Linked DNA regions of Homo sapiens: region 1 is linked to region 2. The links come from fine-mapping of genetic effects on gene expression. Tissue or cell type: esophagus muscle. Region 2 holds a variant in brackets; the other region holds the start of a gene. All regions are shown on one strand. Distances are from middle to middle.

What was found. PIP is the estimated chance that this variant, and not a neighbour inherited with it, causes the effect.
Region 1: ABCD4 starts here. The variant in region 2 is fine-mapped to the expression of ABCD4 in esophagus muscle (GTEx, PIP 0.95).

Annotation. Positions count from the first base shown.
Region 1 is chr14:74,300,002-74,305,124 of GRCh38, forward strand. It overlaps ABCD4 (ATP binding cassette subfamily D member 4), which reads right to left and starts at 2,933. Exons shown (of 19, transcript NM_005050.4): 1 at 2,874-2,933; 2 at 149-267. The coding sequence starts at 2,911. It also overlaps a transcript of VRTN not described here. RefSeq lists a silencer at 2,682-2,761 and an enhancer at 3,022-3,381.
Region 2 is chr14:74,765,010-74,770,216 of GRCh38, forward strand. All of the region lies in intron 1 of YLPM1 (YLP motif containing 1), which reads left to right. Among named protein-coding and RNA genes, the nearest start is that of YLPM1, 4.3 kb to the left of the region's middle. The variant TTTTG/T (reference allele first, on the strand shown) is at 3,241.

The DNA of each region.
Region 1 (5,123 bases), 470 kb before region 2:
GCAGTGAGCTGAGATTATGTCACTGCACTCCAGCCTGGGCAACAAGAGAGAAACTCTGTCTCAAAAAAAAAAAAAAAAAAAAAAAAGATGGAAAGGGACCCCAAACCAGAGCTCCCCTCCCTCCTCTAGTCTGGGCTCACTCACTCACCCAGTAGGGTCAGGCACAAAAGGGTCAGGAACATCAAGGCATTTTGTGATGACCAAGAAGGAAACAAAACCTTCAGTATCTGCAGGAACCGCTGGAGAAATTGCAGATCTAACCTGGGCCTGAAGAGAAGGTGGGGAGGCAGAGAAAAGCCCAAGACAATAATTAAGCCTTAGGGAGTAGTTATTAAGCTCATCCACATTGTTCTGTAGAGGGTCCAGGCCATGCAGAAAGAATGGTTTTCAAATGCTGAAGATGGTAGGCTGGGAACAGACCACGGATACAAAGGAAATTCTTTGGCCAAGCGTGGTGGCTCATGCCTGTAATCCCAGCTACTCGGGAGGCTGAGTCAGGAGAATTGCTTGGACCTGGGAGGCAGAGGTTGCAGTGAGCTGAGATTGCGCCATTGCAACAAGAGCCTGGGCAACAAGAGCAAAACTCCGTCTCAAAAAAAAAAAAAAAACCAAAAACAAAAAACTTAAAAAATTACAAATGGATTAAAAATCTAAACGTGAAAAGTAACACTATCATGTTAATAGAAGGAAATGTAGAAAAATGTCTTAATGAAGATACCTTAAAAACCTATACAGGGGAAAACTGATGAATTTAACTTCATTAGAGTTAAATGTTTTTATTCAACACAGTGCCATAGATTAAGTTAGAAGACTTGGAGGTGGTATCTGCAGAGTGCAAAACCAACAAGGACTTGAAATCTTTATTTTTTTGAGACGGAGTTTTGCTCGTTGCCCAGGCTGGAATGCAACGGCGCAATCTCGGATCACTGCAACCTCCGCCTCCCTGGTTCAAGTGATTCTCCTGTGTCAGCCTCCTGACAAGCTGCAATTACAGGTGCATGCCACCACGCCCGGCTAATTTTTGTATTTTTAGTAGGAGACGGGGTTTCATCATATTGGTCAGGCTGGTCTCGAACTCCTGACCTCCGGTGATCCACCTGCCTCGGCCTCCCAAAGTGCTGGGATTACAGGCGTGAGCCACCGCGCCTGGCCTAAAATCTTTTTTTTTTTTTTTTTGAGACAAGGTCTTGCTCTGTTGCCCAGGCTGGAATGCAGTGGTGCGATCTCAGCTCAGGGCAACCTCTGCCTCCCGGGTTCAAGCGACTGTCCCACCTCAGCCTTTTTAGTGGCTGGGAGTACGGGCGTGCGTCAACACGCTCAGCTAATTTTTGTATTTTTGGTAGAGATGGGGTTTCACCATGTTGCCCAGGCTGATCTTGAACTCCTGGACTCCAGTGGTCCACCTACCTCAGCCTCCCAAAGTGATAGGATGACAGGTGTGAGCCACCGGGCATGGCCAGGATCTAAATCTAGAGCCTACAAGAATTCCTGCAAGCCAGGAACATAGGAAATCCACAGAGAAGTGGGAAGGGATATAAACAGGCAATTCAAAAAAGGGAAAACCCACGTTTAATAAACACATGAAAATGTAGGCCGGGAGCAGTGGCTCACGTCTGTAATTCCTTTATGCACTGCCCGTCGGGAAGTGTAATCCCTGCACTTCGGGAGGCCGAGGCGGGTGGATCACCTGAGGTCAGGAGTTCAAGACCAGACTGGCCAACCCCCCCATCTTTGCTAAAAATACAAAAAATTAGCTGGGTGTGGTGGCGCGCGTCTGTAATCCCAGCTACTCAGGAGGCTGAGGCAGAAGAATCGCTTGAACCCGAGGCGGAGGTTGCAGTGAGCCGAGATCATGCCACTGCATTCCTGCCCGAGCAACAAGAGCAAAACTCCGTCTCAAAAGAAAGAAAGAAAGAAAGAAAGAAAATGTACACGATGGGATACCACCTTACACCCCCCAGACTGATAAACATTACAAAACCAGCCGCCACTGAACGATGGAGGGATACCGGGAAACAGGAAGCTTTATGCACTGCCCGTCGGGAAGTATAAACTAGTGTGACCATTCCAAAGAACAATCCAGCAAAATTAGATATGACCAGGACCCAACTCTGGGGTGGATACCCAGAGAAATGCAACAATATGCACAAGGAGACAACTGCCAGAATATTCGTTACAGTGTGGCTTGTGGGGGTGTTAATACTAGAAAAAAATCTATCCACCACTAGGGGAATAAGTCTATGCACACAGCACCCCTCATGCAAGCACTCAGAAGTGAAAACAAGATGACTAGCATGGATGGACTCAAAAACACAATGTTGAGGAAAAAGGTTTAAAGAAAAATCACAGCATATTATATTGAAGAATTCGAAACCGCTATATAGATTTCAAAGTAACACTTGCACAAATTTACCCAAGGTGGACCGTAAAGCCACTTATATAACACACCAGAGTGGCTGTCTGAAAAGGGGAGTGAAAGGGGTCTGGGAATAGGAACGAAGAGAGGAAGTGATAAAATAAACAAGGAGCCTTGCATTGGCCCACAGGGTGTCAAGAACTGAGAAGGATCAACTCAATTTTGTGCACCTGAGGTTCTTCTTTTCAAAAAAAGAATGCCAGTTGCGAGGGTGAGGGTCCCACACCGCAGGAGATGGCACAAGTCCGGCCAAGAACGGAGGGGGCCGCGGCCGGTGCGGAGCGGCCTAGAGCGGCGGGAGGGCGGACGCCCCTTCGAGAGCTCCTCTTTCTCTCAGAAGTCACGGGGGCGAGACGGGGGCGCCAGGGCGGCGGACGAGGCACGGAGGGCAGGAAAGCCCATTCCCTACAGCCCGGAACTCCTGCTCCCAAACCTCCTCCCCGACCGCCCTGCTTACCTGGCGCCAGCTCCGGGCGCGGGCCCCGCGACCGCCATGACCTGAGACCCGAGGGACTCTGGAGCCCAGCTGCCCCTAGTTCAGTACTGGGTAGAGTCCGAGGAGGGGCGGGGCCCCGGCTACCACAGAGACGGCGTTTGATAGAGAGGAAGGTGCGGGAGACGCGGACTCTCCCGGAAGCGACCGACGTCTCTAAAAGTACCAGAGAGTGGACTCGGCTGACCCGGCGGCTACAGCGCCCCCATATTTTCTGGGAGACTTCCCTTTTGACAATAGGTATCCGAGAGTGTAACTACTTTATGGCAAGTATTTTAGATTCTGTGTATAATAGATGTTTTACATATTCTCCCAGAGAAGCCAGCATGATCTTTAAAAAAGTATAAATTAGGCTTCCAGCCGGGCCCGGTGGGTTACTCCTGTAATCCCAGCACTTTGGAAGGCCAAGGCGGGAGGATCGCTTGAGCCCAGGAATTCAAGACCAGCCTGGGCAACATGGCAAGACCCCGCCTTTACAAAAGACAAAAGCATTAGCCGGGGATGGTGGCGAGCGCCTGTGGTCCGAGCTACTCTGGAGGCTGAGGCAGGAGAATCACTTGGGCCCGGAAGGTCAAGGCTGCAGTGAGCCGTGACTGTGCCACTGCACTCCAGCCTGGGCGACAAAGAGAGACCCTGTCTCAAAAACAAATAAATAGATGATAATGATCGATAGATAAGATAGATAGTTGAATGAATGAAATGCTTATCAGTTGACTGATTAGTACCCAAAGGGAGGTGGGAAATGGCTCAAAAAAAACCCAAACAGCATGATCCCACAGGTCCCTAAATTTGAATCTGGATGTGTCTTCTCACTTTCCTCCAATCCTTATTAAGTTTCAACTGCAAGCCAAACACTCTACAACATGCATGTATCACTTGTCTTTATGAAAGTTGCAGTCTAGCTGGGTAGGTCAATCAGTTGACAATTACAGATTTTTTTTTTTTTTTTTTTTTTTTTGATACGGAGTGTTGCTTTTGTTGCCCCGGCTAGAGTGCAATGGCGCGATATCGGCTCACGGCAACCTCAGCCTCCCGGATTGAAGCCATCCTCCTGCCTCAGCCTCCCGAGTAGCTAGGATTACAGGCATGTGCCACCACGCCCAGCTAATTTAGTATTTTTAGTAGAGACAGGGTTTCTCCATATTGGTCAGGCTGGTCTTGAACTCCTAACCTCAGGTGATCTGCCCGCCTTGGCTTTCCAAAGTGTTGGGATTACAAGAGTGAGCCACCGCTCCTGGCCTTTTTTTGTTTTTGTTTTTGTTTTAGACGGAGTTTCGCTCTTGTGGCTCAGGCTGGAGTGCAATGGTGCTATCTTGGCTCACTGCAACCTGTGCCTCCCGGGTTCAAGCGATTCTCCTGCCTCAGCCTCCCGAGTAGCTGGGATTACAGGCATGCACCACTATACCCGGCTAATTTTGTATTTTTAGTAGAGACGTGGTTTCTCCATGTTGGTCAGGCTGGTCTCGAACTCCCGACCTCAGGTGATCCACCCACCTTGGCCTCTCAAAATGCTGGGATTACAGGTGTGAATCACCGTGCCCGGCCTACAGCTGTCTTTATGAAGTGCTATGACAAACATACCATACAGCAGGGGTTCTCAACTTTGGCGCCATTAAGTTTTGGGGCCTGATCATTCTTTGCTGTGTAGGCTTTCCTATGCAATGTAGGATGTTTAGCTGTATCCCAGGCCTCTACGCACTAGATGCCGGTGGCATTCCTTCTGACCTAGGCATCCCAAAATGTCTCTAAACATTGCCAAATGTCCCTTAGGGGAGAAAGGACCAAAATTCCAGCTTTACCCCACCCCCTAGCATTGAGAACCACTGCCCCAGAACCAAAGAGAAAGGCATTTAACTCAGCATGGGGAAAAGTGGAATCTAGAAAGACTTTGAAGAGGAAATAACTTTATTCAAGTATGTCTTTCTTATTTTGAAAACCAAAAAAATAGGATGCAATTTTTGAAAAATTAATAAGGCAACCAAAGTATTAAAGCAAGCAACGTCACCTCTCTAGGGTAATCTAGGTTTACAGATCTTGTCCCCTTTCAGTCTCAAAAATGTCCTAGTTTGGTATTCGGTGGCATTACTGTCCCAGGGTGCCTCAGCATTGTCTATTACTGTAAACTTTTAAGAAGTAGCAGGCTGGGCACGGTGGCTCACGCCTGTAATCCCAGCGCTTTTGGAGGCCGAAGCAGGCAAATCACCTGAGGTCAGG
Region 2 (5,207 bases):
TTAAAGATTGTTTTAAGATAATGAGCAATTTTCTGCGTTTCATTGTCATTACCATTCACTCCAAAGAAACAGCCTTGCAATTTGGCCAACGTAAAAAAAGTTTGGTGATATCTTTTCATGAGAGAGTCAGCCATTCTTATCCCGCAGAACAGACAAATTGACAGGGTAACAGTAATAAACGAGTTCCCCCTTGAGAGAGGGAAGGTCAAACTAAAGCAGAATAAATCAATTGTTATGATTTCCTAAAGTAGACACTTTTTCAGCGATTACTAATTTACCTTAGATTCACTAAGGAAAAAAGAGAATCTTGTAATATAAACGCTCAGATTTACCTATAAAAGATTTCCAAAAGATAGGGATGCAGTATTATAATTTTACGGTGGTTTGGCATTAGAAATTAAGAACAGAAGCAAGTTGTTTTAAGAAATGATGCTTGGCACATCTTCTGGAGAAAACACTTGGGATGCTGAAATAAAGTAGTAGAATAATGATTCTGTTGGCTTACATCAAATTTGTACCATCTCACCAGTTTATTTTCCCCAGATTGCTCTATTATAGAGACAGACTTTCTGTCCTCTTTCCCACCCCACTCTGAAGTCTTTAGTGCTTTTGTTGTCAAACATTCTCAGTTAGTCTGAGCCAAAATAGGACATTTATATTCTCACTCTACTAGACTGTTTTTCTGACCTTACAGAGAGACAAAATAATTGTATTTTTGGCTTTTTTTGGGAGGAGTGTGTGTGTCAGATCAGGCCTTAATATGTATAGTTACCATGAACAGTGCTTTTACTTTTCTGCCTTTGTACCCTTTTCTGTAATGAACTCAGTGTCTTGAATATTCAGTGCCTGCAATTCTTTGGTGAGAGGCAGAGTGGTGGAAAATGAGACTTGTGGTGCACATAGACCAGATCAAGAAGAGCCTTGAAGCCTGTGGCTTTCTTTCTTCTTTTTAGAATTCATCCTAACCTCCTCAACCCTCTGTTTCCCCTTAGAGTTGTATTGCTTTCAAGGCATATCTCAAATATCAAGGTTTCCATGAAGCCCTGCTTGTGCTCACCCATCTGGTTTGGTTCTGTTCTTCAGATTGTAAGTCCCTTGCAGACAGGAATTATCTTACTTATCTTCTTATTACCGTAGCACCTAGGACAGTGCCTTGCAAATTGTAGGCTCTCCACAGATTTGTTGAATAAAATACGAGAGTTGTCATGTTCTAGACTTAGGATATGTTGGTTTATTAGATGATAAATATTTCTTCATGCCAGTACCAGTCTCTGGCAATCCTTCTACATATTTATTATTCTTTGATTCATATTTTGTTTTTGGAATGTGTCATTCAAAATTTCTTATCGTGAAATATTTTTAAAATACACAAAATAGAGAAAAAAGTATGATTCCCCATACATACCCATCATTGAGATTCAACAGCTATCAAGATTTTGCCATGTTTACTTCACCTAGGCCTTTTTTATTATTGTTGCATATATATATATTGAGACAGGGTCTTGCTCTGTCAGTCACCCAGGGTGGAGTGTAGTGGCATAGTCTCAGTTCACTGCAACCTCTGCCTCCCAGGCTCAAGCCATCCCAAGTAGCTGGGACTACAGGTGCATGCCACCATGCCTGGCTATTTTTTTTTTTTTTTTTTTTTGGTAGAGACGGGGTTTTGCTATGTTGCCCAGGCTGGTCTTGAACTCCTGAGCTCAAACAGTACACTGCCTTGACCTCTCAAAGTGCTGGGATTATGGGCATGAACCACCACACCTGGCCTCTGCTGAAATATTTTAAAGCAAATCTTAGATCTTATGTCATTTCATCCCTACATTCTTAGTCAAGTACCTCTATAAAACAAAACAAAACAAAACCAAGACCTTTTCTTTTTTTTTTTTTTTTTTGAGATGGAGTCTCACACTGTTGCCCAGGCTGGAGTGCAGTGGCGCGATCTTGGCTCATTGCAACCTCTGCCTCCCGGGTTCAAGCGATTCTCCTGCCTCAGCCTCCTGAGTAGCTGGGATTACAAGTGCATGCCACCACGCCTGGCTAATTTTTGTATTTTTAGTAGAGACGGGGTTTCACCATGTTGGTCAGGCTGGTCTTGAACTCCTGACCTCATGATCCAGCTGCCTTGGCCTCCCAAAGTGCTGGGATTACAGGCGTGAGCCACCGTGCCCGGCCAAGACCCTTTCTTAGATAAACACATTGTTAACACCTAACAAAGTTAACAGTTTCTTGGTATCATCTAATACCTGATCCGTTCAGATTTCCTTTATTGTTTCATCATACTAATGAACTAAAAATAATTCTTTGATACCATCCATGTTAAAATACCCCAAATTGACTCAACAGTGTTGTTGTTTTCTGTCCTCACAGTCTGTTCCCAAACAATGTTTTTTTGGTGTGTTCAAGTCAGAGTCCAAACAGAATACTGAAAAGATTCTTAGTATAGATCAGGGTTTCTCAGCTTCGGCACTATGGACATTTTGGGCAGGATGATTCTTTGTTGTGGAGGGGCTTGTCCTATGCATTGTAGGATGTTTAACAGCGTCCCTGACCTCTACCCATTAGATGCCAGTGGCAGCCCCCAGTCCGACAACCAAAAATGTTTCCACACATTGCCAAGTATCCCCTGGAGACAAAATTACCCTCTGTTGAGAACCCTTGACCTAGGTCAGTCCCTCCTATTTTCTTTTTCTACCTCATGTCTTTGAACTTGATGAAAAATCTGTTGTCAGTTTTCCTGTAGAATGTCTGACATTCTGCATTGTCTGCTTTTTCATGGTGTCACATTTGACTTGTTCCTATGTCTTCCACATTTTTTTTTTTTTTGAATTAGAAGTTAACTCTGGAACCTTCATTTAAGTTCAGCTTTCTTTTGGCAAGTGTTGCATTCCTCATGGGACACCCGATGCCTGGTTGTCCCACTGTTAGTAATGCCATTGGTCCCTCTACTGTAAAGCTTTCTATCAATCTTGCATCTAATGTTTCAGTCTACTGGTTCATCAATTGAAGAAAGACCTTGCCTAAGTAAATTATTTCATTAGACAGAGGTTGCAACCTGGTGATTTTTTTTTTCTGCCATTTCTTCCACAGTTACTATATGGAGTTATGTAAAGAAAAACTTTTGCCACAGATATTTGATTGGAAATACAGTTGGTATAGGAAGGACAAGATAAATACTTGATATTTTTCCAGGTGTTTTCTAGTTTTTCGGGTAAAGTGTTGATGATTTAATGGAATGTGTTT[TTTTG/T]TTTGTTTGTTTCTGAGAGAGAGTCTCACTCTGTCGCTCAGGCTGGAGTGCAGTGGTGAAATCTCGGCTCACTGCAACTTCCACTTCCTGGGTTCAAACAATTCTGCCCTAGCCTCCCAAGTATATGGGATTACAGGTGCATGCTACCATGCCTGGCTAGTTTTTGTATTTTTAATAGAGATGGGGTTTCACCATGTTGGTCAGGCTGGTCTCGAACTCCTGACCTCAAGTGATCCACCTGCTTCGGCCTCCCAAAGTGCTGGGATTATAGACGTGAGCCACTGCGCCCGGTCGGAATGTGTCTTTTTGAATAATTAATTTTTCTATGTGTTTAAAGGACTGATTTATTTAGTTAAAGCTGTTGGCTTTGATTAGTTTTTAGAGGTATCATTTATTTAATGTTTAAATACTTACGGACTAGCAACTATGTGCCAGGTACTATGAGTACTGTGCTTAATACTGGAGATGAAATGGTTAACAAGATAGACATGGGACCTGCCCTCATTGACTTCTTGTTTCAGTTGTGGGGGAAGGGAGAAGACATTTAGTAAGTAATTAAGAGGAGACGTACAGAGTGCTATGGGATTATAAAATATCACTAGATTATTCCCCAAGGAACTGGCAAAGGCAAGTTTTTTGTTTTTTGTTTTTTTTTTAAGTTACCACTGTATTCACAGTACCTTGCATAGGATCTAGCGCATAGGAGGTGGAGAACAAATATATTTTAAATAATTGAATATAGCTGGGAGCGCTAACCTAATTAAAGAGGATTCCCTTTGTAAAGTGATATTTTTTATTTTTTATTTGTTTTTATTTTATTTTATTTATTTTTATTTTTTTGAGATGGAGTCTCGCTCTGTTGCCCAGGCTGGAGTGCAGTGGCGCGATCTCGGCTCACTGCAACCTCCGCCTTCCGGGTTTAAGCAATTTTCTGCCTCAGCCTCCCTAGTAACTGGGATTACAGGTGCCTGCCACCACGCCCGGCTAATTTTTTTGTATTTTTATCTTTTTTTTTTTTTTTTTTTTTTTTTTTTTGGAGACGAAGTCTCACTCTTGTTGCCCAGGCTGGGGTGCAATGGCACGATCTCGGCTCACTGCAACCTCTGCCTCCCGGGTTCAAACAATTCTCCTGCCTCAGCCTGCCTCAGCTACTCCCAGGAGTAGCTGGGATTACAGGCGCCTGCCACCACGCTTGGCTAATTTTTGTATTTTTAGTAGAGACGAGGTTTCACCATGTTGGCTAGGCTGGTCTCGAACTCCTGACCCCAGGTGATCTGCCTGTCTCAGCCTCCCAAAGTGCTGGGGTTACAGGTGTGAGTCAGAGTGCCCGGCCATTTTTTTTTGTATTTTTAGTACAGAAGAGGTTTCACCATCTTGGCCAGGCTGGTCTTGAACTCCTGACCTCGTGATCCACCTGCTACGGCCTCCCAAAGTGCTGGGATTACAGGCGTAAGCTGCCACGCCGGGCCTGTAAAGTGATATTTAAATGAACTCTAAAGAATAAGTAGGAGGACTGGGTGCTCACACCTGTAATCCCAGTTCTTTGGGCTCATTAGAGGCCGGGAGTTCAAGGCCAGCCTGGGCAACAAAGTGAGACACCCCCCCCCCCGCCCCCCGCCCACAAAAAGTTTAAAAAACTAGCCAGGTGGCCGGGCGCAGTGGCTCACGCCTGTAATCCCAGCACTTTGGGAGGCCTAGGCGGGCAGATCACGAGGTCAGAAGATCAAGACCATCCTGGCTAACATGGTGAAACCCCATCTCTACTAAAAATACAAAAAATTAGCCGGGCGTGGTGGTGGGCGCCTGTAGTCCCAACTTCTCAGGAAGCTGAGGCAGGAGAATGGTGTGAACCCGGGAGGCGGAGCTTGCAGTGAGCCGAGATCGCGCCACTGCACTCCAGCCTGGGCGACAGAGTGAGACTCCGACTCAAAAAAAAAAAAAACCTAGCCAGGCATGGTGTTGC